Linked DNA regions of Homo sapiens. The protein of the gene in region 3 purifies or fractionates together with the protein of the main gene of each other region. This does not show direct contact. Each region holds a gene or a part of one and is shown on either strand. Other genes may lie near its edges.

What was found.
Region 1: the proteins of ODF2L (region 3) and NPM2 purify together in Homo sapiens (affinity purification with mass spectrometry; 2 studies listed by BioGRID and IntAct, with this or other methods). This does not show direct contact.
Region 2: the proteins of ODF2L (region 3) and HACL1 purify together in Homo sapiens (affinity purification with mass spectrometry; 2 studies listed by BioGRID and IntAct, with this or other methods). This does not show direct contact.

Annotation. Positions count from the first base shown.
Region 1 is NC_000008.11:22,026,849-22,034,878, reverse strand, and holds part of NPM2 (nucleoplasmin-2), read right to left. Parts: intron 2,530-8,030; exon of another isoform or gene 2,427-2,529; intron 1,750-2,426; coding exon 1,656-1,749; intron 771-1,655; coding exon 604-770; intron 370-603; coding exon 335-369; coding exon of another isoform or gene 331-334; exon of another isoform or gene 1-330. UniProt on the Homo sapiens protein: Core histones chaperone involved in chromatin reprogramming, specially during fertilization and early embryonic development. Probably involved in sperm DNA decondensation during fertilization.
Region 2 is NC_000003.12:15,597,918-15,606,264, forward strand, and holds the start of HACL1 (2-hydroxyacyl-CoA lyase 1), read right to left. Parts: upstream 3,653-8,347; 5' UTR 3,547-3,652; coding exon 3,466-3,546; exon of another isoform or gene 3,444-3,465; intron 3,278-3,443; coding exon 3,173-3,277; intron 1-3,172. UniProt on the Homo sapiens protein: Peroxisomal 2-OH acyl-CoA lyase involved in the cleavage (C1 removal) reaction in the fatty acid alpha-oxydation in a thiamine pyrophosphate (TPP)-dependent manner.
Region 3 is NC_000001.11:86,392,997-86,401,118, forward strand, and holds the start of ODF2L (protein BCAP), read right to left. Parts: upstream 3,328-8,122; 5' UTR 3,037-3,327; exon of another isoform or gene 2,949-3,036; intron 1-2,948. UniProt on the Homo sapiens protein: Acts as a suppressor of ciliogenesis, specifically, the initiation of ciliogenesis.

The DNA.
Region 1 (8,030 bases), on a different chromosome or scaffold from region 3:
GCCTTAGCCTCCCAAAGTGCTGGGATTACAGGCGTGGGCCACCAAGCCTGGCCGTGAGAAGCATCTTAGTGCAGGTAATTTCCCCTGAAATTTGGATGGAATTCTGTGGAAGGAATTGCCTTCACTGGAATTAGATCCCAAGATAAGAACGTTGTAATGCTCTTCCAGAAAGGTGATGCCACCCTTCAGCACTTCCATACCCATGTGCCTGCGAGTGCAGGTAGACACACCGTGTGTACATTTGTACACGTACATCCCAACAGCACAGTATTCTTTCTAACACTGTATATCTCAGCTGGAGACTTTGGCTAATTTAATAGGTAGAAAGAGTTACCTTATTTCCTCTTCTTCTTTTTCCAGCTTTTTTTTCTGGGAACCAAAAAACAGTGTATTATGAGAGTTCAGACAAAGTCCAGAGCCAGAACAGATTCCCAAAGTCCACAAGGTCCCCGCTGAGCTCCTGGCCAGAACTAGCTGAGGTGGCCTTGGCCCATCCTGTACACTCATTCTGGGAGGCTGGCCCAGGCTCCCGGTGGCCCACCCCTCTTAAGTGCTTCTGTAGGGGTACCACTTCCTTCCAAACAGCCACGCTCCTTCCCCCACCTTAGCCACGCTCGCCTGCTTCTGGGGCACCAGCCTTTTGACTTGTTTGACAGGGCTTTGCTCCTCCAGAGATATATCTGCATCCTCATCCTCATCATCTTCCTCTTCCTCTTCCTCCTCCTCCCCTTCTTCTTCCTCCTCCTCCTCCCAGGTTAGGTCTGATGCTTCTGTAATAGCATGGGAAAGGATGCAGGGGCACAGCTTCAGAGCTACAGAATCAATGCCCACCTCCCATTCTGTGATCCGTGTTGCTCCAAGCACTGCCCTGGAGGAATCCTAGCCTGGAGTTGACAGTGGTTACCTGCCTGCCACCTGTACAGGGCGGCACCCTTTCTGGCCCTCCCAACAGTGGAGGCCAGGGTAGGGTAGGGGGTCTAGGAAAGCCCTGCAGAGGGCTGGGGTGGTAGAAAGAGGGCAGGGGAAGTGGCTCTGGCTGGGTAGGAGGGGGATTCATATTGGCAAGGGCTGGGGCCAAGGCTAAAGGTAGGCAGAGTAGGGGAGGAAGAGGAGGAGAGGGGGAAAGAATCTAAAACAAATAGCTAAAGAATTGAAACCTTATCCTAAGAGAAGTGGGACCTGCCAAGGCTTTTTAGCAGGAGAGTACCCTGATGAATGAGGCATAATCATACAGAAAAGAGGGCCAGTTGAAGGGACCTTGAAGGAGTCAGCATCATGCCGCGTTGCTATGGTCTGCGTTGCTATGGTCTGCGTTGCTATGGTCTGCATCACTGCAGCAGCCACATCCTGAACAGTGGTTCCCTAGTGCTGGGTATTACGCTGAGTGCTTTTCCTGAATATCCCATTTATTCTTCACAACTGCTCTTTGAAGTTTACAAGTGAGGGGCTGCAGCCTACAGAGGTCATGGCAGGTAAAGAAGAAGAACAGGGACCAGCGCCCTTGCCTTCCAGTCCAGGCTGCTGGCTGTCATGTTGCCTTTGGGGATTTTCTTCCAACATTCAAGAATCCCTCCAGTGTTTGAGTAGCTAGTATGTCCCGAGCCCCTGCCTAGCACGGTACTCACGGACCTTCCTGATCGCAGGCTCTGACTTACCATAACGTTCCTGGCCACTGAGGAACACGGGTCCTGAGCCAGCCCGGAGCTGGAAAGTAACTGGGGGAGAAAGCTGCACTCCTACCATGGAGACCTGCAGGGGGAGGAAGCAGAGAAGACAGGGCCACTTAGGCCTGGCACCTCTCGGGGACTAGCCTCAGGCAGAAATACTGAGTTGATTTCCCTCCCCAAACCCTACACACTACTCAGCCCCTGCTGAGGTGGATTCTGTCCAAGAATTTGAACCTGGTAATCCCATTCTTGCTAAGCTCACAGATGGGCTTCCAAGCTGAAGGGCAGCCGTCAGATAGAGGAATCTGATTAGTATGGGCTAAATTATGGCCATTCCCCCCATCCTCCAAATTCCTATGTTGAAGCCCTATCCTCCAGTGTGATAGTATTTAGAAATGCAGGCCTTGGGAGGTCATTAGGTTTGGGGTCATGAGGGCAGGACCCTCATGATAGAACTAGTACCTTTACAAAAAGAGACACTAGAGAACTCACTCTCTTTCTCTCCACTCTCCTGCCCCACACGTGAACACATAGCAAGAAGGCTGCCGTCTGCAACTCAGGGAGAGGACCCTTACCAGAACCCAACCATGCCGGCCCCCTGATCTCAGACCTCAAAGCCTCCAGAAGTGTGAGAAAACGTCTGTTGCTAAAGCCCTCCAGTCTGTGGTATTTTGTTATAGCAACTTGGGCAGACTGAGACACCGATCAAACGAGAAAGCAGATGCATGATTTTATGTACAGTGCTGCTTGCTTTCTTCACATCAGACAGGTGATGTGCCAACTCGTAACCAGGTTTGTGGGAGGCACACCTTACACACGAGCGTGAAACCCCAATCATCACACTTATAAATGACAAGAGCCTCTACAGTACTACTTTTGTCTTATGTATAATGTATGGATATACATAAGAATAAAGGTTTAAAATATATTAAAGTGCTAACCATAATTGTCAGTCGATAGTAAGGTATTTATTGTATTTATACTTTTCCAAACTTCCCAAATTTTCTCGAATGACAATGATAGCTTATTGTTTTGAGCTTCTGCCACGTGTCAGGCACCCTGCTAAGCATTTTATCTGCTTTATCTCATTAAATCCTCACAAGAAACCCATGATGTAAGTACTGATACTTTACAGAGGAGGAAACTGAGACTTAGAGTGAATAACTTACAGCTTCTAAACTCTAAGTTCAAACAGGAGGTAATAAGTGAAAACAAACTCTGCAGCCAGAGACACTTAGAAATGCCAGAGAGGATGTAATTCAGTGTTTCTACTGCATGGCTGAACAGTAAGACAGAAGAATCCTCGTACATAAAAAATGAAGAGAGGATGCCTTCTGATTAGTGATGAATGAAAAAAAGAAAAAAGAAATGAAGACAGGCAGGTGCAGGAGCTGGTGTGCTGCAACCGAGGGGAAATGGACCTGAAAACAGCCAGGACTTTTTGCTTCAAAACTCACACACAGGCCGAGCACGCACGGTGGCTCATGCCTGTAATCCAAGCACTTTGGGAGGCCAAGGCAGGCGGATAACTTGAGGTCAGGAGTTTGAGACCAGCCTGGGCAACATGGTGAAACCCTGTTTCTACTAAAAATACAAAAATTAGCCAGGTGTGATGGTGCACACCTGTAATCCCAGCTACTCAGGGGGCTGAGGCAGGAGAACTGCTTGAACCCAGGAAGCGGAGGCTGCAGTGAGCCGAGATTGCGCCACTGCGTGCCAGCCTGGGCGACAGAACAAGACTGTCTTTAAAAAACACAACAGAACAACAACAAAATCTTCACAGTCAGGAGACAAGGCCTTGGGCTCAGGCAAGGAGGAGAGTTGTAGCTGAGACCACCATGGGGAGGGTAGGACCCTCAAGGGCTATACCCTTAGTGAGAGGCCCAAGGTAAGTGTTGAGGATTAGAGACTCAAAAGCCCAAACCAGCCCTCTTCTCCTCAAAAATGAAAAACAAAAATCAAAACCCTAGCCACCATTAAAGGAAGCTAACAACAAAGCATGAATGGAAATAAAAGAAGTCTCCAGTGAGAGCCCATACCCCATAGCTGTACCTCTCACTTATGGGGTCTGAATTTACTCAGTGAGTACTGCCAAGCCAAGAAATGTACAGAAAATCCCAAGCTTATGATATTCCTGAGGTAAATGGCAGAAGCAAACACGAAACCACTCTGTTGGAACACTCCCCAAACTCAGGCCACATCGAATTCTTTTGGAAAAAAACAAAATAAACTAAAGATGAGCTCACCGTATAAAATTACAAAACATACAAGAAACAATCCAGCTAGAGTCAACAGAAAGAAATCAAGTGACTGCAGACTAGCCCGACCAAGAACTTAGAACACTGATCTAAAAAAATATCAGATAAAGCTGGGTGTGTTGGTGCACGCCTGTAGCCCAGGCTACTCGGGGGGGCTGAGGCCGGAAGATCGCTTGAACTCAGGAGTTCAAGGCTGCAGTGAGCTATGATTGCAACAATGCACTCCAGACTGGGCGACAGAGCAAGATCTTGTCTCTAAAATATGTATATACAGAAATATGTACATATATATATATATGTATATGTTTAAAACCAAGTAAATATAAAAGTAGGAATCATAATCATAAGAACAAGACATTATGAAAAGAAAAAGAACCAAATGCAGCTTTCTAGATATAAAACACCCAAAGCTGAGGATGGGCATGGTGGCTCACACCTATAATCCCAGCACTTTGAGAGGCTGAGGTGGGAGGAGTGCTTGAAGTCAGAAATTAGAAACCAGCCTGGATAACATAGTGAGACTCCAGCTCTACAAAAAAATAATAAACATTAGCTGGGCATGGTGGCTCATGCCTGTAGTCCCAGCTACTTAGGAGGCTGAGTGGGAGGATCACTTGAGCCCAGGAGTTTGAGGCTGCAGTGAGCCATGATCAGGCCACTGCACTCCAACCTAGGCAACAGAGCAAGACCTTGTCTTTAAAACAAAAATAAAAGAAAACCTGATCAAATGATTAAAAAGCAGAAAAAACCAGCAGAAGCAGAATTAGTATGATCAATAATGCTGTGAAGGAATTACCCAGTATAAGGCAGAGAGGGAGAGATTTAAAGAAACATTGGGGGAGCTAACACGGGGGACAGAGTGAGAAGGCCCAACATATATCTAATTGGAAAAGGGACTAGGGAGACTGGAAGACAGTCAATATTCAAAGGAAAAACAACCAATAATTTTCCAGAATTGATCAAAGACATAGATCCTCATGTCTGAAAACCTAAGTCCTGAACAGACAAAAAAAATAAATCTACACCTGAACACATCATGGTAAAACTATAGAAAATAAAAACAAAAGACATTATCTTAAAATAAGCCAGAGAGGAAAGACATCTCCAAAAAGGGAATAATCAGACAGATTGAGGACTTCAACAGCAACATTGGGAACCAGAATAGAACAGCTTCAAAGCTGAAGGAAACTCTCTATCTAGAATTATATACACAGCCAAACCATCATGAAGGAATGAGGGCAAAATCATGATATTTCCAGACAAAGCCTGAATAAGTTTACTATTCTCAGGCTTACTAAAGTATGTTGCTAAAAAGGATAAGAAATTAGATCAAGAAGGAAGAAGTGGGTGCTAGAAGCAGTGGTAACCAAACTAATTGGTAAACAAAGTAAACCTACATAAGAATTAACTGGAAAATACAATAGTACTAGTAATGAGTAGTGTTGAGTAGGCTGACAAGTTGGAGCTAGAACACTTGATAATAATATTGAAGTTAAAAAGATGAGAATCAGGCCAGGTGCGGTAGCTCACACCTATAATTCCAGCACTTTGGGAGGCCAAGGCAGGAGGATCACCTGAGCTCAGGAGTTCAAGACCAGCCTGGCCAACGTGGTGAATCCCTGTCTCTACTAAAAATACAAAAATTAGCTGGGCATGATGGTGCATACCTGTAATCCCAGCTACTTGGGAGGCTGAGGCAGGAGAATCACTTGAATCACCTGGGAAGCAGAGGTTGCAGTGAGTCAAGATTGCACCACTGCACTCTAGCCTGGGAAACAAAGTGAGACTCCATTTCGAAAATAAAAAAATAAAAAAAGGAGAATCAGAAAAGCTCCTTGGATTGTCTGGGAGGACATAAAACATTAATTCTAAACTTTGAGTAATGTATGATTGTTAAAAAAATTAAAGATAAACAGTAAAAAAATTAGAATGAGATTCTATAACTTCCAAACCAGTAGAGAAGGGGAAAAGGAACTTTAATTAATCTAATAAAATATAGGAAAAGGAGAAGAAAATAAAAAAGCAAGGAAAGTAGGGGTACAAAGTACATGCCACAAATCCAATTACATCAGCAATCACAATGAATACAGACTATACTGGCCAGATAGAACAAAATCTAGCTACATACTGTGTAAAAGATACATACCTGGAACATAAGACATAAAACACACCTGAAACAGAGAGGTTGCTGAGGCCAGAACACAAAGGCTTCGAAGCAGGCCATAATACACTCTCGGCTCTTATTCCAAATGAGAGAGAGCCATGACCTAACTATTCTAGCAGAGAAGCCACATGATCTAACCTGTGTTTAAAAGGATCTTTTTGGCTGGGCATAGTGGCTCACGCCTATAATCTCAGCACTTTGGGAGGCTGAGGCAGGTGGATCACTTGAAGTCAGAAGTTCAAGACCAGCCTGGCCAACATGGTGAAACCCCGTCTCTACTAAAAATTACAAAAAAAAAAAAAAATCAGCTGGGCATGGTGGGGAGCGCCTGTTGTCCCGGCTACTAAGGAGGTGGAGGTTGCAGTGAGCCGAGATTAAGCCACTGCATTCCAGCCCTGGTATCAAAGCAAGATTCTGTCTCAAAAAAAAAAAAAAAAAAAAAAAAAAATCTTTTTGGCAGCTGTGTGGAGCACAGACCAGGAAACTTTCTGTTAAGAGCCAGAAGGTAATATTTTAGGTTTGCAAACCATATGGTCTCCATGGAGACTACTCAAATCTGCTGTTAGGGAGGAAAAGCAGCCATGGACAGGGTACAAACGAATGAGTGTGGCTGTGTTCCCAGTAAAACTACTTACAAAACCAGGCAGCAGCCTAGATTCAAGCCCTCTAGTTTGCCTACCCTGGAATAGACTACAGGGGACCATGTGATGGTAGGTAGACCAGGTGGAAGGCTGTGCAATTAAAATGGAGCCACAGGCAACTGTCACCTGTACCAGGGGTAGCAGGGAAGATGATGAGATGTGGTCCATTGGGGTATAAGATGGGGGCAGAGACAACAGGACTGCTGGTAGATCAGATATGGGTGTGGGAAAAAAGAGGATTTGGCTGGGTGTGGTGGCTCATGCCTGTAAATCCAGCACTTTGGGAGGCCAAGGCGGGTATATCACCTGAGGTCAGGAGTTCGAGACCAGCCTGACCAACATGGCAAAAACCCATCTCTACTAAAATTACAAAAATTAGCCTGGCGTAGTGGAACATGCCTGTAATCCCAGCTACTTGGGAGGCTGAGATGGGAGAATCACTCGAACATGGGATGCGGAGGTTGCAGTGAGCCGAGAGCGCACCATTGCACTCCAGCCTGGGTGATAAGAGTGAAACTCCATCTCAGGGGAAAAAAAAAAAAAAAGAGCTTTGTCTTGGCTAACTGGAAAAACAGCTGTTTTCTGAGAGAAAATCAGGTTGAAGGGGAGGCGGGTGGATTAGAGATAAAAATTGAATATGTGGATTTAGACATGTTAAATTTGGGATATTTATTAGATATCTATCAAAGCCATTTAGTTGGATATAGGACTTGGAGCTCAAGAGAGGTTGAGTTTACAGAAATAAGTTCCTGAGTCTTCATTTGTTTAGATGGTCTTGAAAACCACAGGAAAGGATGAGATCGCCTGCAAAGTATGTGTAAATAGAACAGGAAAGTCTGAGGGCAGTTTGACAGAGGGGTCTCCCAAACCTCCAAGGACAGCTGATCCTAGTCTTCCATTCACTGTTCCAGGGAATAGGAGAGAACCCTCCACCCTCAGTGCATGAGGCTAGCATGTCCTGAACACCTAAATACTATCACTTATAGGCCAACCTCACATGTATACAGGTAAAAAAAAGGGCTCAATATATGAGTAAAACAAATCTAGAATTTGTAACATGACCAGTAGTATTTATCCCAGGATGGCAAAGGAACTCAGATATTATTATCTTCATATAATTTACCACGTGGACTAAAGAACCTAGAATCATATGAATAGAAAAGCATTTGGTAAAATTTAACCCCCTCTAGTGATTTCAAAGCAAAGCAATTTTTTAAAAGCAGAGGGTTTTAGATGGGGACTTCCTTAACCTGACAAAATGTACTTACCAAATGCTTCTTTTTTAAAAAACAAGAAGGAA
Region 2 (8,347 bases), on a different chromosome or scaffold from region 3:
TGCAAAATATACAACAACACGTAACAAAAAGTATATTCCTCTGGTAGGAAATGTCAAAAGTTGAGAGGTAACTGTTTTGTTTTGTTTTATTTTGTTTTGTTTTGTTTTTTTTTTTTGAGACAGAGTTTCGGAGTTTCGCTCTTGTTGCCCAGGCTGGAGTGCAATGATGCAATATTGGCTCACGGCAACCTCCACCTCCCAGGTTCAAGCAATTCTCCTGCCTCAGCTTCCCGAGCAGCTGGCATTACAAACATGCACCACCACGCCTGGCTAATTTTATATTTTTAGAAACGGGGTTTCTCCATGTTGGTCAGGCTGGTCTCAAACTCCTGACCTCAGGTGATCTGCCTGCCTCAGCCTCCCAAAGTGCTGGGATTACAGGCGTGAGCCACCGCGCCTGGCCATAACTGGTTTTATGACCATAAAAGATCTGTTCCTCTACTAAACTACCTCCATTCACAGGCAGAACAGTGTACATGGTACTTAGAGAGTGGACTCTCGAGCCAATCTGTTTTGATTTAAATCCCAGCTTCCCCACTTTCTACTGTGTAATTTTGGCAAGTTGCTCTAAATCTCTGTTTCTTCATCTATAAAATGAAAATAATTCAAAGCACTGCTGTGAGGATGAAATCAGTTCGTATGTGTAAAACACTCAAAATAGTGCCCACACACAGTAAGCTCTCAAGAACAATGAACTTGCTGACAATCTGCCTACTTGCTGGCCAATTGGTCAGTATGTCTTGATTACTCTATGGATCTAATCAAAGACAATGAAGTCACACCCAACTACATCTTTCTCTTTATCACAAACATGTCCTGAATGCCTTAGCCTGTTTTCATGTTCCCTCTGAATCATTCTGTCACTACCCTTAGTTCAGGTACCATTTAAGTCTTCCTTTGACTACCATAGAGTCAGGATGCTTGAGGGACATATGCACTGGGATGTTCCACCAACATCTCAAATGCATGTGTTCAAAATTGAACATCACCTTTCTCCTCCAAGCTGGCTCTTCCCTCTATATTCCCAGTCTCAGTCACAGACAATATGATCTACACAATCAATCAAGTAAGCCCAAAATCTAGGAATCATCTCCAGAGGAGCCTGCCTCCTCTTTCCTAACTGGTTAATGCCTGCTTATCCTTCAGGACAGCTCAGACATCATCTCCTGTGGGAAGCTGAGCCTGGGTACTCCTTCTCTGGGCTTTATAGCACCCTGGATATCTCTCTATCACAGCACTTACCACCTTATAATACAATTGTCTGTGTCTGTCTCCACAGCTTGGCTGTAAGCCCCTTAAAGCCAGGAACTATCATTCATCTCTGTATCCAGCACCCAACACAGCACATGGGACCTAAAGAACCCTCAACTAAGCTTATAGGGGCTGAAATAAAACTTAGAGACAGAGGTCGTGCTATGTTGCCCAGGCAGCCTCTAATTCCTGGACTTGAGTAATCCTCCTGCCTCAGCCCCCTTCGTAGCTGGGATTACTGGCATGTACAACCATGCCTCGCATCATCTTTCTGAAGTACAAATCTAATTACATCGCCCACCTGTTTAGAAAAACCTTTAGTCTCCCCCATTGCCTACTGTTAAAAAAAAAAAAAAATTCAAACTCTTTTTAGATTTCCCACAACCTCCCCTCAACCTACCTACCAGTCTCACAGCTCACCATGCCTTTACCTACCTTGAGGGAACCACATGAACTAACATTACCTCTACAGGCAATCTTCTCTGTCCTCAAAGAGAACCAGTCACCCCTTCTGTGCTACTACATCTATTGTGAGAGTTATAATAGATGAGTCTTTTTCTGTAAGTCTTACCCTCACCTTCCAGGACTGATCAACGTGAAGATCAAGACTAAACCTCACTCCTTCTTTACATCCCTCTCTCCTACAGGTTATGTAGCACAATCCTTAGTATACAGTACTTAGTCAATAAATGTTTGCTGTATGAAGAAATCAGTGGCAGATATGTCATCTCTACAAAAACAGTTAAGTATAGGTTCCATTCATAGGTCAATAGCTTCATTTTTTCACACAGATGAAAGAACAGAATGTTGTTCTAACAAAGACAAGTAAAATGTAGAAGCAACAGAAACTCAAAACCTCCTAGTTTTAAGATTAAAAAATACAAATCTCAAACCTTGTAGATAAAGAATGTCATTCAATAAAGAATGTCATTCAATAAAGAATGTCATTCAATTAATAAATAATGTATAATATTAAGCATCTACACCACGTGAAAGCACAAACCAAGCCAGGCACTGTGGTGATATAACAAATGAATCACAACTTCTGCCCTCCAGGCACTCATGTATGATGGCAAAAGGCACCACTTAGGGTGGCCAGGCAGTTGTTTGGGCAAGAGGAGGCAAGAATTTAAATTAGAAGGCAACGGTGGGAGTGTAAAGCAGGAATATTTAGCCTCAGCTGGACTGAGAGTATGTGATATCACAGAAGTGGATTCTTGACCTTTCAAGCCCGCACTACTGAGAGAAGAGCAAGGTGGATTGGCAGAGGATGCACTTAAAGTGGATTGACAAAACGTCGTATCTTCCTTATCCTGCTTCCAAATAAGCCTCTAAGAAAGGTGGCAGCATGATGTGGTGGAAAAAGCATCAGGCTAGGATCTGAGCCATCTGAGTTTCCATCAAGGCACTACCATTTGTGATATCCTCCACCCTGCCCCGAACCAATCATACAACAAAGCCTTGGCCTTCACTCATTTATCCCACAGGTAATCTCTGAACACCTTTCTTATGCAGGCACCACACTAAGCACTGGGGGTACAGATGTGTCGTGAAGAAATAATATCCCTGCTCTAATGGAGCTTGTAGCCTAATAGGGAAGTCAGACTTTACTCATAAACTGTCCATTCCAATCATGACATACAGTATAGTAGTAAGAGAATGGACTCAGACCCAGAATACGTGGGTTCAAACCCTGGCTCTGCTACTACCAGCTGTGTCACCAAAGGCAAGTTTTACTTAACCTGTGTCTTTTCTCATCTGTCAACTTGGTGTAACAACAGTTAATATTCAACAGTGATTGATATGATATATGTAAAGTAGCAGAAGAGTGGTAAGCGCTATCTGGGTGTTTGCAATGCATACCTACCGCTATTACTGATCATTCCCAGTAACGCATTCAGCCACCTGAGTCCATACTCACCGCTTGCTCATTCCTCATCCCGATGTACTTGATGCCTAGCTGCTGGGCAGCAATGGCGATTTCGGTCACTGGGATGCCTACGATGCCAAATATGTACTCCACATCCTGAGGAACGAAGAACAGGGGAGTAAACTCCCAAGGCCCCACCATATCGCCACATCCTTCCCTCCCTCCCGGGCGCTAAAAGGAAAACCCCCCGACCCCCATCGCCCATTTCTACTCGTCTCCAAGACAACATCGCGGTCCCCGCCAGCTTCCGTAGGAGCCTTTCATTCCAGGAAGGTCCATCGTACTTGCGTTTTCAGGGCCTGAGCGATGACTTTAGCACCAGACACCTGCTCCTCGCTGCGCTCTGCGAAGTTACTGTCCGGCATCTTCCACCGAAAAGCTCTAAGCACTCACGCAGCCGGCAAACAAGCGGAATCATCCAGCAAGGCAAACGCGAAATCGGCAGCACGCCACCTCTGGTACTGCACCTCTGACGGACAGGAGGGCAACCAACTGCCTTAAACAACGGGAAGGAAGAGGCGGTCTAAATTCGTCCACTTCCCGGGAGAGGTGAGAATGTAAACACGCGCGTTCTCCAATCAGAACTGCGCTCTCTTCTCGGCTCCTCCATTCGCGCGCCAGAATGCCAGAGGGAGGCGGGACTAGCAGGAGATTGCTGCCTATGCAAAGCAGGTAAGAAGCCGAACTCTGAGGCCTCTCGCCATTGTCTCCGAGTCGGCCAGCTGGAGCGTTTTCGGGGCTGTAAAGGGAGAATGGCGCATGCGCATATTCAGGGCGGAAGGCGCGCTAAGAGCAGGTACGGAGGGGGCGTGGTGCGGCGCGGAGGGGGTGTGGTAAGGGCGTGCGGTCCAGACCCCGCCCCGGGCGCCCAGTTGGACTTGGGGAGGGCTGCGCAAAGGCTGCCGGGAGCTGGGAAGCCCGGCGCGCGTCGTTTGCTGGGGCTGTTTGTGCGTTGCTGCTGTGCTACCGCGTTGCGTTTTCTAGGCATTTACTTACACGCTTTGTGGTTTACGCTCTCATAACCTTGTGGTTTTATAGTCCTTAAATTATTGTAGCGCACGTTACTTAAATCCAGAAGCAGATGTGTACCCCAGCAAGAGATAAAATGACGCTCAGAGTCAGTAGATCCAGACCGTGCCTGAGATCCTGAATCCTGTTTCCTACCCACTATTCAGCCATTGGGTCACAAGCGATGAAAAGAGCACCTTGAAGGTAGTATAGAGCACTGTTTTCTCCAGCCCTTGCTACTAATCCATATTACTCTCCGCTAATATCTTTCCAAAATTAGGAACTATGGCGTTTCATAATTCTTAGGTTGGGTCCCTACCTACAACCAGCCCTGCACCCGATAGCCTTTTAAAACATTTTTGTGTGAAAATCGTTTGCAATGTGCAATATCTGAAACTACTGCCTTGGAGTCATTAGACCCTCTGCTCAGTGACAATAAACATAAAATTTCCAATTGTAATAAACAGTGGAACTTTTAATTTTTTGAGGATTTGGAGTCATTTTAAGCAAAAAGAACAGTGATAAGTGGACAGTAAAGAGATGAGAGGGGAGTGGGTCATGGGTAGTGAAATGAGTGAGAAGCACTGGAAGTGAAACGATTTCTAAACCCAGACATTTTCAAACTGTAGTCCTGGGTCTTTTCAAAAGGTCTTCCCCTCTTTTTCTCAACCCCTCAACCCCACCCCAAGCAGAGGAGAGTGAAGTGGTTGCCTCCCTGCATATGTGGACGGTGTTAGTCCATTTTCATACTGCTATAAAGAAATACCCAAAACTGGGTAATTTATAAAGAAAAAGAGGTTTAATGGTCTCACAGTTCCAAATGGCTACGGAGGCCTCACAATCATGGCAGAAGGTGAAGGAGGAGCAAAGGCATGTCTTACATGGTGGCAGGCAAGAGAGCGTGTGCAGGGGAACTGCCCTTTATAAAACCATCAGATCTCATGAGACTTACTATCATTAGAACAGCATGGGAAAAATCCCCTCCCCATGATTCAGTTACTTCCCACTGGGTCCCTCTCACCACATGTGGGGATTATGGGAGCTATAATTCAAGATGAGATTTGGATGAGGACACAGCCAAACTGTTCTGCCCCTGGCCCCTCCCAAATATCATATCCTCACATTTCAAAACCAATCATGCCTTCCCAACAGTCCCCCAAAGTCTTAACTCATTTCAGCATTAACTCGAAAGTCCACAGTCCAGAGTTTCATCTGAGACAAGGCAAGTCCCTTCCGCCTATGAGCCTGTAAAATCAAAAGCAAGCTAGTGGCTGGGCGCAGTGGCTCACACCTGTAATCCCAGCACTTTGGGAGGCCGAGGCGGGCGGATCATGAGGTCAAGAGATGGAGACCATCCTGGTCAACACGGTGAAACCCTATCTCTACTAAAAATACAAAAAATTAGGCGGGCATGGTGGCAGGCGCCTGTAATCCCAGCTACTCAGGAGGCTGAGGCAGGAGAATGGTGTGAACCCGGGAGGCAGAGCTTGCAGTGAGCTGAGATTGGGCCACTGCACTCCAGCCTGGGGGACAGATCGAGACTCCGTCTCAAAAAAAATAATAAAATTAAATTTAAAAATAAATAAATAAAAGCAAGATAGTTACTTCCTAGATACAATGGGTGCACGGGAGTGAGGTAAATATACCCGTTCCAAATGGGAGAAATTGGTCAAGACAAAGGGGCTAAAGCCCCCATGCAAGTTCAAAATCTGGCAGGGCAGTCAAATATTAAAGCTCCAAAATGATCTTTGGATCATTTTGACTTCGTATCTCACAGCCAGATCATGCTGATGCAAGAGGTGGGCTCCCACAGCCTTGGGCAGCTCTGCCCTTGTGGTTTTACAGGCTACAACCCCCTCTCCCAGCTGCTTTCACAGGCTAATATTGAGTGTGTGCAGCTTTTCTAGGCACATGGTGCAAGTGGTCAGTAGATCTACCATTCTGGGGTCTGGAGGACGGTGGCCCTCTTCTCACAGTTCCACCAGCAGTGCCCCAGGAGGGACTCTGTATGGGGGCTCCCACCCCACATTTCCCTTCCACACTGCCCTAGCAGAGGTTCTCTATGAGGGCTCTACCCCTGCAACAAGCTTCTGCCTGGACATCCAGGCATTTCCATACATCCTCTGAAATCTAGGCAGAGGTTCCCAAACCTCAATTTTTGACTTCTGTGCACCTGCAGGCTCAACACCATGTGGAAGCTGCCAAGGCTTCAGGCTTGCACTGTCTGAAGCCAGGCCTGAGCTGTACATTGGCCCTTTTTAGCCATGGCTGGCATGGCTGGGATGCAGGACACCAAGTCCCTAGGCTGCAAACAGCAGGGGGACCCTGGACCTGACCCATGAAACCATTTTTCCTCCTAGGTTTCTGGGCCTGTGATGGGAGGGCCTGTTGTGAAGGTCTCTGACATGCCCTGGAGACATTTTCCCCATTGTCTTGGTGATTAATAGTTAGCTTCTTATTACCTATGCAAATTTCTGCTGCCAGCTTGAATTTCTCCCTAGAAAATGGGTTTTTATTTTCTACTGCATCGTCAGTCTGCAGATTTTTCAAATTTGTATGCTCTGCTTCCTCTGGAACACTTTGCCATTTAGAAATTTCTTCTGCCAGATACCCTAAATCATCTCTCTCAAGTTCAAAGTTCCACAGATCTCTAGGACAGGGGCAAAATGCCACTAGTCTCTTTGCATAGCAAGAGTGACCTTTACTCCAACTCTGAATAAGTTCCTCATCTCCATCAGAAACCACTTCAGCCTGAATTTTATTGTCCATATCACTATCAGCATTTTGGTCAAAGCCATTCAATAAGTCTCTAGGAGGTTCCAAACTTTCCCACATTTTCCTGTCTTCTGAGCCCTCCAAGTCTCTAGGAAGTTCCAGACTTTCCCACATTTTCCTATCTTCTTCTGAGCCCTCCAAACTGTTCCAACTTCTGCCAGTTACCCAGTTCCAAAGTTATTTCCACAGTTTCGGCTGTCTTTACAGTAGTGCCCCACTCTCTGCATTACCAATTTTCTGTGTTAGTCCCTTTTCATACTGCTATGAAGAAATACTCAAAACTGGGTAATTTATAAAGAAAAAGAGGTTTAATAGATTCACAGTTCCACATGGCTGGAGAGACGTCACAATCATGGTGGAAGATGAAGGAGGAGCAAAGGCACGTCTTACATGGCGACAGGCAAGAGAGTGTGTGCAGGGAAACTCCCATTTATAAAACCATCACAGCTTGAGACTTATTTGCTATCACAAGAACAGCATGGGAAAAACCCTCCCCAATGATTCAGTTACCTCCCACCAGGTACCGCTCATGATATGTAGGGATTATGGGAGCTATAATTCAAGATGAGATTTGAGTGGGGACATAACCAAACCATATCAGGGACCCATCTCAGAGGGTGACTTCTTTCAAGTCTCAGAGTGTATCTAAAAAGAAAATGCAGATTTTGTATTATACTCTAGAATGTATCCATATTTTAATTTTAAAATGACATTTATTGAGATATAATAAAGATACAATTCAATGTCCAGATTTTAAATGTTAGATGAGTTTTGACAGTTATATATATATATATCTATGAAATCACCACCCAAAATAAAAATGACATTTTAAACTGCTTACCTGTCAAGTAAAATTGACATTCCAGAAAGATGTGAAACGGGCTGGGCACAATGGCTCATGCCTGTAATCCCAGCACTTTGGGAGGCCGAGGTGGGCAGATCATCTGAGGTCAGGAGTTCGAGGCCAGCCTGGCCAATGTGGTGAAACCCCATCTCTGCTAAAATACAAAAATTATCCAGGTGTGGTGGCACATGCCTGTAATCCCAGCTATTCGGGAGACTGAGGTGGGAGAATCGTGTGAGCCAGGGAGGTAGATGTTGCAGTAAACCAAGATTGCACCACTGTACTCTAGCCTGGGTGACAGAGCGAGACCCTGTCTCAAAAAAAAAAAAAAAAAAAAAAAAGATGTGAAATCATCTTTGCACTTTGAGTAGTCCTTGACACAATGCCTCCTGTCCTTGTTGAAGAAGTACAGACTTCCCCTTCCATCATGTATTATTTATATCAGTACCTTTTGTGACAGTCTCTGCCCCTGTTGCATTAGAGTCACTTGGAAAGCTTTTTCCAAATAGTTACTTGGGCCCTACCCCAGATCTCCTGAA
Region 3 (8,122 bases):
AAACTATGTTCCACTGTGGCCAACAGCAAGCATTTGGGGATAACTGCTCAGGGACCATGATGCTAGCCATGGTCAGAGAAAAAGGAAAATCATGGTCCATGACCTTCCTTAACACCTAGATCAGACTAAGTAAATTAACTAACTTCAGATGAATATGTATTTTAAAACAATATCTCTGAAGAGAATAGCATATGAAACCTGCACATTTTGTTTTGCCAAACACAAATTCTTAGAAAACTAACTTCCACTGGCTTCAAACACAGCTTCTACTGAAAAAAGTCACCATGGCATATTCAGCAAGGAACACAAAGTAGATACAGGAATCCTCTTTTTTTCCCCCTACTATTCTGGACACTAGTCAAACGTTTACTAGAGAGGTAATTGTATGAAAAAAAAAAAAAGGATAGGAATCTTGGAAACAGGCAAAAAGCTGGAAAATAAATCTTATGCGTAAAAGCTACCAAAATGGAAAAAACGTTTTCTGATACAGAGAGATTAGATTAGATAACAAATTAGTAATCCCTCTCTCCAATGAAAAAAGAAGGATGTATATTTAAAAGATGGGCTGCAGACTGGATAATATAGGAAGAAGAGTTGACAGCAAGAGTGACTGTTCTGTAAACACGGCATGTACTTCAAAGCCAACATTCCATTTCCTTCTCAAAGTGTTGCCCTGATTTCTCCAGCCCATCAAGAACTCTAAACAAAAGTATTTTCAGAATCATATAGTTTAGAATTTAACTGCTCCATAAATGCTCATATTTTAGTTCTCTTTTAAACTTGCTATTAACTGTGAGGACAAATAATACGCATCACTCTCTGCCCTAAAAAATTACCTAACACAGTGGGGAGCATAGATTAGGTTCTCAAATATAAGTTAGGGTGACTAAATTATTTACTGTTTAAACTCGGACACTTTTGAGTGTCCATATAGAGCCCAATTACCCGGAAAAAGACCTGGCCAAAGATGTTCAGAATATTGTCTAATCCCAAATAAAGTCACCATCCTGTACCAGACAAACATAAAGCATATTCCTTTCCTTCAACACGACAGCTGTTGCCATTTACTGAGCAGAGCACTGACTGACCTTATAAACATCATCTCACAAAAGCTTCACAAGGTTGTTATTAAAAAGCTATAAATAAGTAAATTAAATCTTAGAAGGGTTAAATAGCTTGTCCAAGATTACAAGTAAGGAATTGGTGGAACTCAGTTTTGAATTAAAAGCCATGAGATGGTGAAACCGCATCTCTACTAAAAATACAAAAATTAGCTAGGCGTGGTGGTGGGCACCTGTAGTCCCAGCTACTCGAGAGGCTGAGGCAGGAGAATCACTTGAACCCGGGAGGCGGACGTTGCAGTGAGCCGAGATCGCGCCACTGCACTCCACTGCGGCAGAGCGAGACTCCATCTCAAAAAAAAAAAAAAGCCATGAGATACTAAAACATAAATATAAAAATCTACAAAGCAAAAAGTAACACACAAACTTGCCTTTATTCAGTCAGGTTTTAATACTCATAAGTTCAATTTAGATTCAAAAGATGAAAACTGTTCTGGACAAGGAAATGAGTGATGAATGAGCTAGCTAAAAGCACAGACTACAATTCTAAAGAGAGAGAGCAGACCGCGACCAGATCACTAAATTCCATTGTTCTAAAGTTTGTCACAAGGAACTTTTGGGATAGAAAAACTACACTATAAATACACATCCATTGTGAAATAAGAAGATGAAAAAGAGAAGCAAAAAGCAAATCATAAACATGATCATGACATTCTTACTATAAGCAGAATATCAAACTAATTTCAAAAGCAGACAGGTTTTCTGCAGTTTGTTTCTTTTTCCTTTTTTTTTTTTTTTTTTGAGACAGAGTCTCGCGCTGTCGCCCAGGCTGGAGTGCAGTGGCGCGATCTCGGCTCACGGCAAGCTCCGCCTCCTGGGTTCACGCCATTCTCCTGCCTCAGCCTCCCGAGTAGCTGGGACTACGGGCGCCCGCCACCACGCCCGGATAACTTTTTGTATTTGTTTTAGTAGAGACGGGGTTTCACCGTGTTGGCCAGGATGGTCTCGATCTCCTAACCTCGTGATCCGCCCGCCTCGGCCTCCCAAAGTGCTGGGATTACAGGCGTGAGCCACCGCGCCCGGCCCGGTTTGTTTCTTTAACCTTAACTCAGTTGCACTTAAAACTCCAAGAACCTCATTCATTCAAAAACACTTGAAACCGTACTATGCGTTGCGTGATGAGGAAACTGTCTTCGAAATAGATTTTATCCCCAACAGCAGCCCCAGTATGGTTATTCTCAGTAAACAACAAGCACCACCACTCACTAACCACCTACATTCGGTGCCACCTTAATGGCCCTGCGTTTACTTAATCTCGTATTACAACCACCCCAAAGTGATGATTACTGTTACAGTTATCAGTAAGGAATCCAGGAAGGTTCAGTGACCTAGACAAGGCCACACAGCGGGTTCAGTGGCAGAGCTGGGACTGAACACAAGTCGGCCTTTAGCACTCTCCACGACCCTAGGTCAATCCCGCACTACAGGGGTCGCCTATAGGGGCTGGAACCTAGAGGAATCCTGGAGAAGGAATTATTTCCTGAGGATTCCTGTAATATACCTCACTTACGAAGCCCCCAGGGCTTCCTACAATCTGATATATCACATGATGGGCGATTAAAAACCAGCCCAATGATTAAGAGGTCACTATTTCTGAAAGAAATGCAACCATATCCAGGAACGGCCCGGTCAGGACTTCGTTCTGCACAAGCCCACCTCACGCTAACATTTGCCCTGATGTCCCGGGGACCACACCCTTCCTAAGAGTGAGTCTCGCCGCCCTTTTCCCAGGCCAGGTAGTCAGCCTGAGGGAGGTGGAGGGTTTGCGCGGAGGGGGCTGGGTGGGCGCGAGGGCCTTTTACTTCCGGGACCCACCACTGCCCTCACCTCCAGACCGCTAAGGGCTCCCGCGGTAAACGCCCAGCAGCAGCTAGGCTCCCCACAAAGTCGCCCCCAACCCAAAAGGCGTACTTACGCCCCCGCCGCTGCGTCCGCACGTCGTCGTGACGACAGCCCGCCGTCGCCGCGATATAAAAAAAGGGTCAGAGGCGCCACGGCTGCTGCAATGGAAACCGTGGCAATCCTTCTTGTGCTCTGAGTCGGCTAGGAGGGAGCGGGACGCAGGGGGCACTACAGTGGGTAGACTAGGAAGGAAGGCAAGGGACGCGAGGTGGGAACCAGGCGAATTCCTAGACCTGCTTGCCGCAGAAGAGTGCCCGCTCAAGTGGAACAAAAGCGCAGCTAGTAACCGGCTAGTGGCTTCTCTGGCAACGGCGGCCCCACCCCTCCCGTCAGGCCCGCAGCAGGCTGCCGATTGGTCCGGGTTAGGGACGGCGGGCAGCGCCTATAGCTATTGGAGAGGGTGAGGAACGGGGCAGGGAGGGCAGCTTCGTGTCTATCCTTGTTTCTCGGGTAAACATTTTTTTTTAAGCGTTTGTTTATGGACAAGGACAGCATTTGTGTACGTTACCGAAAATCATAACCGAGCCCAACTAGAAAAAAAGGAAATAAAGCCAATTCCGAGTTTTCTGGCGCTTGGCCTGGTTGTGCCCTGCTTTTGCTTTTTAAAGAGAAGATTTGAAAACGTGAAGGCAACTGCGACCGGAAGAAACCTCCTTTTAAATGTATAGTAGTATTTTTAGCTGAGATGCCTCCCTGGGCCTCAGGTTTTTTCCTGTTAAATGAGGAAGCCTGAGGATGTTCTGCAAGGTGCCTTCAGGGTCTCAAAGTCTTTCGTATCTGTGCCACAGCCAGCTGGTCTGGTTTATAAAGTCCTGAAGAAGCAAAGCAAGATTTTAATTGGAAAAATATCTTCATTCAATGCCTCTACTTAATATTCATGTTAAGAATCGTACACCAACCTATGAAGTTCACAAGTAGAGTAACTGTCAACTAAGCCATAACCGTGGCATGCTGCTACCTAAATAATTGGTTTCACTAAAGCACTCCAGCAATGTTTTTCCACCAGTACTGTAATTGTCCCTTTCATAATTTAAAGCGGGAGACAGAATTAGTAAATTTTTTAGTAAAGGGCCAGTGATATGGTTAGGCTCTGAGTCCCCGACCACATCCCATCTTGAATTGTAATCCCCATAATCCCCACGTGTCAAGAGAGAAACCAGGTGAAGGTAATTGAATCATGGGGGCAGTTCCATAATCCCCACGTGTCAAGAGAGAGACCAGATGAAGGTAATGGAATCATGGGGGCCGTTTACCCCCATGCTAGTGAGTTCTCAAGCTATCTGATGGTTTTGTAAGGGGCTCTTTCCCCTCCACTGGGCACTTCTCCTTAACGAAGAAGGTGTCCTGCTTCCCCTTCACCTTCCGTCATGATTGTAAGTTTCCTGAGGCCTCCCCAGCGACGCTGAACTGTGAGTCAATTAAACCCCTTTCCTTTATAAATTACCCAGTCTCAGGCAATTCTTTATAGCAGTATGAAAATGTGCTCATACAGCCAGATAATATTTTATTAATAGGTTTTGCAGGTCATATGGTCTCTGTGATACTATTTAACTCTGCCATTGTCTTACCAAGAAAAGCCATAGATGATACATAAACATAAACATATGAGCTCACTAAAGTACGTTTGTGTGCAGGATGCAACACTACAGTGTTGGGTAGAAATTGTGATTTCTATCTTCATGGCAACAAATGGGGACTAGAATGTAAAAATAGCAGGCAATGAAATAGAATAAAGATACTTGAATACAAATAATACTTCAAAATTAAAAAGCAACATTTTAGATAACCTGTTTGCAGAGGACAAACAGAAGGTTAAATGAAAGTGTGATGGAGAATCACCACCTTTACATCTTTGCACTCTTTAATAGTGCCACTAATCACTGGAATTCCCCTAGGACTATGGTATTGCCTTTGGTTTAATCTTTTAGTAGATAAGGGCAGTTCCAAAGGCTTCCACTTTGTCTTCCTATTATAATAGCCATGAGTCAAAAAGCCAATGTCAAGATGCTGTAAATCTCCTTTAAGGTTATGACATTCAGGTCTCTTCATTAGTTCTGGTAAATTTTTTGCTGTACAAATTAAGTAGAATCTTAGCAGACTATCCATTTCAATTATAGGGGCAGTGATTAATTATCAACTCCTAAAGATCCCCCTTAGTCAAACAATATGATACACCCTGCTGGTATCATGGTATCAACAGATATCTCATCTCTGATGGCTCAGTGGTATCACTTGGCCTCTATCACTTTGGGATCTTACTATTTCCATTAGGGAATTAGGGATTTCATGCAATGGCAGCATCTTTATCCCCAGGCTTATAGAATAGCAGCTACAGAGCTTTTAAAGGATTCTGGCATTCCCTATATTTTCTCAATGCTTTAGTAAAAAGAAGGTCCTTTGGCCCTCTCAGAACACCTTTGAAAGGAGATGACTGGGTAACATATGATAAATCCATTCATACAGTACTATTCCCTAAGTCTTCTTTAAAAATTGATACATACTAGATGTACATATTTTCAGGGTACATGTGATAATTGGATACATTTATATGAATGTGTAATGTGTAAAGATCAAATCAAGATAGTCAGGATATCCATCACCTTAAATATTTATCTTTATGCTATGAACATTCAAATTGTTCTCTTCTAGTTATTTTGAAATATACAATAGATTATAGTTAACTATAGTCACCCTACTTATCTGTCAAACACTGGGTCTTATTTCTTCTATCTAACTGTATGTCTGCACTCATTAATCAACCTCTCTTCGTTACCCCTTTCCCTAAGTCTTTTAATTCAATCCTCTAAAATCAAGAGATTTCTAACATCTCAACTTTATTTAGTTTCAATCAACCAACTGAGCAAACCTTGACAGCCACTCCTAGATGTTCAAAGCAAGAACAGTGAATTATGGTCTCTGGTAAATGTATTCATATTAATATCTTGGTCTCATCAAAAATATTCCTTCATCCCTGGTCTGCCACACTTGGAATTCATTATCATTTTCTATAGTCTTCTGCCAATATAAATAAGCAAAATCTTGCACTTTTTTGGTATGAAACCCTTCTCCCAGGTCAGATCTTTTATTATACCCTGGAACATGTTGGGATCTAACTTTAGATCTAGACCAGTGGTTCTTGACATTTTTTTTGCCACAGCCAAAGAGGAAGGGCAAGTGTCCTACTGGCATCTAGTGAGTAGAGGCTAGAGATGCTGTTAAACATCTGCAATGCACGGGACATCCTCCACAACAAAATGTCAACAGTGCTGACATTAAGAAACCCCGGTCCAATATGGAGAATACAAAGGCCACCAGCCACCTATAGCTATTTCAAACATTTGAAATGTGATGATTCTGAATTGAGACATGTTGTAAATGCAAAATACACACATTTTGCATATGAAAAAGAACATAAAATATCTTGATTTTCATACTGATTATGTCGAAATGATATTTTGGAAGGCAGCTATACTCACCACTATACCACCAATGCCACCAGAAATGATATTTTGTTTATGTTGAGTTAAATAAAATATATTACCAAAATTTAACCACAACTATTTCTTTTTCACTATTTTAAGAGTAGCTAGTAGAAGATTTTAAATTACGTATGTGGCTCACATTATATTTCTACTAGGTGATGTAGTCTAGAGGTATAAAGAACTGATAACAGTTGAGTTCTGAGAACAATCAGTTCTTCTCAATTGATTCACAAGGTAAATTCCTCAGATTAAGTTACTTCAGAATTTTCAAGGAGTACAAGACCAGCCCTATAGATAGGAAGGGAGGAGTTCTTCAGAAAGCAAAAAGCTCTGTAGTGTCTGCGTATTAAGATAATAGAGCTATCCGAATTCACCCAACCTCTCTATCACAACTCTAAAGATCCAACTCCTTCCCAATCAATGCCTTAATTTCTTACATAAGAGACCTGAGGAGTCTGTTTATTCAACTTACCTTGTAATTTAGCTCTTCACAGCATTAATACTTGATTTGGATGTGTCATCCCAGCAATTAATAAAGTTTTAAGGTAATCATAGAAGTTCTCTGGGCCTCTGAGCTTATCACATTTTTCTTTAAGCATCCTAGTACAGTCATAAATAGAAAAATCACCCCACAATCTTTGTATTCTTCATTCCTGCCATTCCCAACAAAGGTATGCCTTCAGTGACTACTTAATTCCTGAGGATTATAGGCCACTTTTAAATGGTTGTATAATTTATATTCAATAAAGTACATATGTATTAAATGTTCAGAGTATGACTTTTGCCAATTATATAATTATATGCACTCATGAAAATAATACCTAAAACAAAATTTAGAACATTTATGTCAGTCCAAAGTGTTTATTTGTATCTGTCTGTAGCTTGTCAGTTCACCAAAACTACCCTCATGCCTCTCCATCCTCCCCTAGCCCACACACAGAGAGACTACTACTTTCTAATTTATATGACTAGAGGTTAATATTGCCTATTCTTGGTGTTCATATAAATGGAATCACACAATATATATTCCTTTTTGTCTGACTTCTTTCATTCAAATAGGCATGTGTGTGTGTATATATGTATATATGTGTATATACATATATATACACACCCACATATTTGAATGAATATATATATATATATATAGCGAGAGAGAGAGATTGAGATTCATCCATGTTGTTGCATATTTTAGTAGTTTGTTCTTTTTTTTTGAGATTGAGATTCATCCATGTTGTTGCATAGTTTAGTAGTTTTTTTTTTTTTTTTTTTTTTTGGCTGAGTAGTTGATATAGTTTGCATGTTTGTCCTCTCCAAATCTCATGTTGAAATGTAATCCCCAGTGTTGGAGGTGGGGTCTGATGTTGGAAGTGTCAGATCATGGGGGCATATCCCTCATGAATGGTTTAGTACCATCCCCTTGATGATAAGTGAGTTTTGGTCTGAATTCATGTGAGACCTGTTGTTTAAAAGTGTGTTGCACCTCTCCAATCCCAACTCTTGCTGCTGCTCTCATCATGTGATGTGGTTGCTCCCCTTAACCTTCTTGTAAGCCATAATTATAAGCTTCTTGAAGCCCTCACAGAACCCCAGCAGATGTTGGTGCAATGCTTGTACAGC